Linked DNA regions of Homo sapiens: region 2 is reported to be linked to region 1. Evidence: microRNA targets listed by miRTarBase, many of them from high-throughput screens and not tested one by one. Region 1 holds a microRNA gene; the other region holds the end of a gene's coding sequence.

Evidence for each region. Region 1 holds the annotated microRNA hsa-miR-6746-3p (CAGCCGCCGCCUGUCUCCACAG, at 1,315-1,336, opposite strand). A microRNA usually pairs through its seed, bases 2 to 8, with sites in the 3' UTR of a target mRNA and lowers its output. Matches are read on the target gene's strand: a 7mer-m8 pairs with bases 2 to 8, a 7mer-A1 pairs with bases 2 to 7 and ends in A, and an 8mer does both.
Region 2: the mRNA of CNTROB is a reported target of hsa-miR-6746-3p. Seed matches in the 3' UTR shown: 8mer at 2,452-2,459.

Annotation. Positions count from the first base shown.
Region 1 is chr11:61,876,902-61,880,299 of GRCh38, forward strand. It overlaps MIR6746 (microRNA 6746), which reads right to left and starts at 1,377; the gene lies at 1,315-1,377. It overlaps FADS3 (fatty acid desaturase 3), which reads right to left. Exons shown (of 12, transcript NM_021727.5): 2 at 3,140-3,250; 3 at 2,411-2,608; 4 at 1,845-1,946; 5 at 1,611-1,733; 6 at 1,254-1,314; 7 at 610-686; 8 at 1-62. RefSeq lists an enhancer at 2,266-2,975.
Region 2 is chr17:7,948,817-7,952,214 of GRCh38, reverse strand. It overlaps CNTROB (centrobin, centriole duplication and spindle assembly protein), which reads right to left. Exons shown (of 19, transcript NM_053051.5): 18 at 3,058-3,130; 19 at 2,295-2,830. The coding sequence ends at 2,705. Among named protein-coding and RNA genes, the nearest start is that of CNTROB, 18 kb to the right of the region's middle.

The DNA.
Region 1 (3,398 bases):
CCGTAGAAGGGGAGGTAGGATAAGAAGAAGCGGGCATAGAAGCTGGCGGCCCAGAGCAAATCCTGCAGAGGAGGGCAGAGGCGATACCGAGAGGTCTCCAGGTGCCCGGAGGTCTGGAGGCCTGGTGGGTGGGAGGAGGACCTCAGGCATCCAACCCTTCTGCCTGATTTGCCTCAGAGCCCAGGACAGGCCACCACCCTCTCTGGTTTTCTCAGCTGAGTAAAGGAACAGGGTCCTTGCCCTGCCAGCTCACGAGGCTGATTTTAGTGACGAAGGTGTCATGCAGGGTGTGTTGGGGAAGACCCTGCCAGGGACACAGATGCCTGGCAGAGTCAGCCCAGCAACTCCTCCTGGGAAGACACCCTCACCGAGAGAGACCCACACCCCCCCTGTTCCTCAACCCCCCCCCACCACACGTACAGTCACGGGCACACTCGCTCTCCTGCTGCGCGCACACATGTGAGCCACACTGTTGCACGCATACATGTGAGCCACACTGTTGCACGCACATGTGCACCCTGTTTGCCTTCATGGGCAGGTACTGTCCCCCGAGGCACCACCTCCTGCCACGGCAGCCGTATGCCCGGGGTCCTGGGCAACCCCACTCACCGCCCACTGCATGCACACCAGCATGTACGCCAGATTTTCCACTTCAAAGTTCACCAGGGTGAGCAGCGGCGGGCCGACTGCAAGAAGGGGCATGAGAGTGTTCAGGAGTGGGGCTGGGCTGCCAAGGTGAGTGGGCGCCAGAGTGAGGGGCTCTGTTACTCCAGGAATGCCCCTGGGACGTTGGTGCTGGTCACATCCAGCTGAATGACCCCATATCACCCCCAATTCTGTGTCCAAGCCTCCCCAGGCTGCCCTTACCCCACCACCTCCCACCACCCTTCACCGCAAGTCAGGGCCAGACTTGAGTCCTCACTCTGTCCGCCCCAACAACTGCCCAAAGACTCTAGGGCTCCGGACCACTCTAGTGAGGGCAAGAAGAAATTCTACGTGGGGCTTGGGGAAGCTCCCAGCAGGGCTGTGATGGCCCGTGGCTGCAAGGTGTCCCAGGCACGGGAGACAGCTGGGGCAAAGGCATGCTGCTGGGAGAGTGTGTACAGACTGCAGAGGCTGGGAGGATGCCATGACCAGGGAGACCTGACAGACGTGCCCCGCCCCAGGAAGTGGCTGGGAGTGGTCCAGGACAGCAGGGAGGACAGTGCAGGCCCAGGCACTCCCCCACCCCAGAAGGACAGATGGACACTCACTCAGGAAGAAGTACAGGTGCTGCTGGTTGTAGGGTAGGTATCTGCGTTTCTTCTTGCCATACTGTGGAGACAGGCGGCGGCTGGAGACAGCAGCTCTCCAGGCCACCTCCTTCTCCCGGGCAAGGTCACGGGGCTGGCTGGGGCCAAGGGTCAAAGGCAACTCTAGATTCTAGCAAGCGGGCTGGTCGTCCCCAGCAGGTTGGGAGGTGGGAAGGAAAGACACGGGGGCAGAGCTTGGCCCAGCCAGAGTGGAGGCCAGATCAGGGGCTAGGTCAGGGGCAGAGTGGGGACCCAGTGCATTAGCTCCCCCTCAGCTGCAGGCCCAGCCAGAGGTTGTCCACGTCCCTCCCCACCCACCTCGACGGATGACTCCCCCAGGAGGAAGACGGGCGCCACCGTCACGTCTGGGTCTTTGTGGAAGATGTTGGGCTTGGCGTGGTGCTGGAAGTGGCGGAAGTTCCACCAGTGGGCGGAGAAGCCCTGTGGAGGAGGAGGGGGCTCTCAGGGCAGGCTGTGCCCCCGACTGTGCCCACACACTTGGGCAGACCCAGCGCCACCCAGCACCTGGCTGACCACCCACCCCACCCTCACCTTTAGCTGCCCCATCACGAACTTCTGGGCCACGTGGTTCCACCAGGACTTCTTGAAGATGGAGGCATGGCCCAGGTCATGCTGCAGACACCAGGACTGAGCCTGGGGAGAGAGGCAGGGTCAGAAGCTGTTGGGAAGGACGGAGCCCGCCAGGGCCTGGGGCCCCAGTGAATCCTTTCAGCTTGCAGGGTACCCCCGTGCTAATGCTCCATTTCAAGACCCTTGTGGGCCAGTGTCCTCTTTTTACAGATGAGAACTGAGTCCCAGGGAGGTGGAGGGGCTCGTAAGTGTCATGAAGCTGCAGGGCAGCAGCCTCTGGCTCAGTGGCCCTGTGCTTGATCGGAATCTGTTCAAGAAGGAACTTCTTGGCTCATCTGGAATGCAGCTTGACCCACAGACATGCCTGATGGGCCTTCAGACTGTTCACTCATTCATCTGTTTATTCATCCATTCATCCTTTCATAGGTCCATTCATTCATTTAGCAAATATGTTCACAATGCCCAGATGCATGGGGGCCCACGTCTGTTGGGCAGTTAAGGTGGCTGCAACACAGAACTGGGGTCACCTGAGAGATGGCCAGGATGAAGGCGGCCAGGGCACTGGGCACCCAGCCAGGACCCAGGAGGTAGATAAGGAGCCAGGCCAGCACCTCCATGGCCAGGATGTGGCCCAGTAGGAAAGCAAAGAAGGTGGGACTGGCATCAAACAGCTTCATGTCCTCGGCTGCCTGGTGCAGGGCTCGGAAGTCCTCGACCAGCTGCGCCTGCCATAGCAGAGGGGCCGATCAGCCAAGGAAGAAATTCCTCCCCACCCCCATTCTCCTGGAGCCCCAGCCGCTCCTCCCATCGCCAGGCCCAAGGGGTGTGGGCAAAGAGGAATGAAGTGACAAGAGTACCCAGCCCGGGGTGTGAGCTGGAGCACTGGCTGGTGGTGAAGCCTCCTCTCCCTCCCAAAAGGTATGGGGTGGGTAAGACGCTACAGCCAGGAGAGAAATCAGTTCATCAAAATCCTCCTTTTGATGGGGACACTGGGCGACAACAGGGAGGGAGCTTGCCTCGGGATCCAAACGGGTGCCTGGCTAAACCAGATCTGGAGCCCTGGACTTCTCAGGGCATCCCTACAGCTTCACTTTCAACTGCCTGCCCCCTGGGAGGGGAGGGCAGGCTCAGCCCTGGCTCTGCATCCCCTTGGGCGAATGCCGAGGGAGCTGCTCCTGGCCATGTGGCAATGTCTCCCAGCCCTCCAGCCATCCCCCTCCCTCAGGGGCTGAGCCTCTCCTAGGGCTCTGGCTCACATTCAGGGGTCCATCCTGGCTGGGTTCTTCCGGAGCCAGCTCTCCAATCAACAGGGGCTGTAGGAACTTGCGCACAAAATTGAGATCTTGATGGAAGGCACGGAAGGCATCCTGAAGGAGAGCAGACAGTCAGGCGGACAGACAGACACAGCTGAGTAGCACAGCGGCAACCAGCAGAGACAGGCGGAAGGACTACGGATGGATGGGCAGAGCAGACGACAGGCGGACAGGAAGTCAGCCGGCTGATGAACAGTCAAAG
Region 2 (3,398 bases), not on the chromosome of region 1:
CCAGGAGATAATGAGGAGAATGAACTGGGTGTTCACTTTACCAGCTATTAAAAACCGTAGCAAACCATCACCTACCAATGATGATAGTGTGCCATGAATCTGAGAGTTTGGTCAAACCAGTGTTACATATTTAAGGTAAAAAATAGAAAAGTAAACATTTCCATACGTGGGTAAACAGACAGGGCTGGAAAAGCCCTCAAGCCTGGGGCTGCTCCTGCGCCAGTGTGCCTCCAGTTTCTCCGCTGGTGCATGCCAGAGAGTGGTCCTGTGCGGGGCTGAGGATCAAGCCGTTCTGACACAGCTGAGCAGGGCAACCCACATGTCTGGTCATTCATCTTCACCTTTTCTTCCTTTGCCCGTCCCCTGGGGGCTAGAAAGTTACTTAGGTGGAAGTAAAATGCAAACATTAGTACAAAACACTCTATGAATCCACATCCTATCATGTGTATAACTCAGGGTCAGATAGAAGGGCCCTGCCTTCTTCTCAGAATCTGGTAAACTCTGTCCCTCAAACACCCACCTCTTACCTGCCAACACCACTTTCAGAATTGTACCTGCCATCACCACTACCCTGCACCATGTGCCAGAGCTGAGAGCTGCGTGTGAGTCTCAAGGTAGGATATCCTCTTCCAGTTTCAGTTTGACTGAGTGCTTTTCAGTGTTTGTACCATGAATTTGGGGCCTTTTTAAATTTCATGTCTACGTTATTTTCTTCCCTAGTATTGTTTTTCTTTGTCCATTTTAGTGAGCATTTAAATGGAAGTTTTATAAACATGGTTTAGTTTTCTTGCCAGCAGTCTATTTTTTTTCAATTTCAACTCTCTTTTTTTTTTTTTTTCAGACAGAGCCTTGCTCTGTCACCCAGTCTGGAGTGCAGTGGCACAATCTTGGCTTACTGCAACCTCTGCCTCTCAAGTTCAAGTGATTCTCCTTCCTCAGCCTCCCAAGTAGCTGGGATTACAGGTGCCCACTACCATGCCCGGCTAATGTTTTGTATTTTTTAATAGAGACAGTGTTTCACCATGTTGGCCGGGCTGGTCTCGAACTCTTGGCCTCAAGTGATCTGTCTGCCTCGGCCTTCCAAAGTGCTGGGATTACAGTGTGAGCCACCACACCCAGCCTCAATTTCAACTTTTATTTTAGATGCAGGGCATACATGTGCAGGTTTGTTACGTGGGTATATTGCACCTAGGTAGTGAGCATAGTACCATTAGGTAGTGTTTCAACCCGCGTCCCCCTCCCTCCCTCCCTCCCTGCTCTGGGAGTCTGCAGTATCTGTTGTTCCCAAGTCTATGTTCACATGTGCTCAATGTTTACTCCCACTTAGGAGAACATGTAGTATGAGGTTTTCTGTTCCTGCACTAACGCGCTTAATTAAGATTATAGCCTTCAGCTCCATCCATGTTGCTACAAAGGACATTATTTCATTCTTTTTCATGGCTGTGTGGTATTCCATGGTGTATATGTACATTTTCTTTATCCAATCCACCCCTGATGGGCATCTAGGTTGATTCTATGTCTTTGCTATTAAGAACAGTGTGGTAATGAACATATAAATGCATGTATCTTGTTGGAATAATGACCTATTTTCCTTTGGGTATATATCCAGTGATGTGATCGCTGGGTGAAATGGTAACTCTTAAGTTTTATGAGAAATCTCTAAACTGCTTTCCATAGTGGCGGAACTTACATTCCCACTGACAGCTATATAAGCATTCCCTTTTCTCTGCAGCCTCGCCAGCATGTTGTTTTTTGACTTTTTAATAATAGTCATTCTGATAGGTATGAGATGGTATCTCATTGTGGGGTTTTGCATTAAATTGATTTGCATTTCTCTGATGATTATTAACGAGCATTTTTTCAAATGTTTGTTGGCTGCTTGCATGTCTTCTTTTGCGAAGTGTCTGTTCAGGTCCTCTGCCCATTTTTTAATGGAGGTATTTGTTTTTTGTTTGTTGATTTAAGTTCCTAATAGATTCTGGATGTTAGACCTTTGTCAAATGCATAGTTTGAGAATATTTTCTCCCATTCTGTAGGCTGTCTGTTTACTCTGTCGACAGTCTCTTTTGCTGTGCAGAAACTCTTTTGTTTAATTAGGACCCAGCACTCTAGTCTTTTACACGTTTTAAAGCTGTAAGCGTGAAGACTATAGCAACAATATGTCTGCTGGCTGGAGTAGAATCTGCCAATCTGAATCCTACAAATGCAACCTGAAAGAATTATTTTCCCTTAGAAAACTTTCTCCCCAACAACCAAATTTTAACTCAAACTCTTTATACAATAACTTACTCTTATTAAAGTTTGGGTCTGTTCTGATTATTAAAGTAACATATACTTGTTTTAGAAAATTTGGAAAATACAGAAACGTATTAAAAAACTAAGAATCACCCATAATTCCACTACCACCCAGAGTTCATTGCTCTGCAGGTTTTAGCTTTGTCCACTGAATCTTAGCCGCCCCAACTTTCCAAATCTTGTCATAGACCGTCTTCCAAAGCATTCATGTCTTTTCCCACAGGAAATGACATATAAACATGTAACATATAAAAAAAGTACTCAACCAAATGTGGTTTCTTTACGAAGTGATTCCCTACAAAACCTCTATTTTCCAAATTCCTATGAGCCAGAGACTCTGATACAGACTAATGAGCATTTATTAAAATAACAACAATGAGAGAACAAAGAGGAGAGAGGGTAGGGGGGCTCATCTCCAGACTCCCCCCCGGCTCCTCATGCTACTCGGGGCAGGGTGCCCACTTTTCTTCCGTGCGGGAGGTTTTTCAGTCTTGGGGGCTGTAGCAAGGCGGCGAGGGACAGCCTGGGAGGGAATCTGAGAGTTGAGGGAAGAGAGAGGAAGAAATCAGCGTCAGATCCTCTCAATTCCCCACCCCACTGAGGAAATGCACGTGGAGAGGGCCAGATGAGTCTGCAGGGAGGAAAGGCCATGCTACAGAATGCAGGGGTGGAATGGAGGGGCCAGCCAGGAGTGTGCAGAGGTGAAGGAGCTGGTCAGTGAGAGCCCTTTTCTCCCCTGGTCCCTGCCTGACTTTCCCTCACCTCTTTCCGGGGGATCTCACCCAAGCGGGAGTCTGTGTTCCTTCTGGGGACATTATCCCCTCGGCCATCAGTCCTGCTACACAAATCAAAGGTATGAGGATGGGGATCTCCGTCCCCCCGGTTACCCAATACTGGATGGAAGAACTACTCCCCAATTCTATCTCTTAAGAATAAGATCAAACTCGATAGACCTGGGCATCAACTGGGAGGAGACATTAGTGGAAGTAAATAACGAGTTACACTAGCTAGTCAAAAGTCTAGGATTCTGAGTTTTGAGCTGAGGGGTAAAGAGGAAAAAAACGAAGGTAGAGAGACCCGGGGAAAAGATTTTTTTGTTTAGA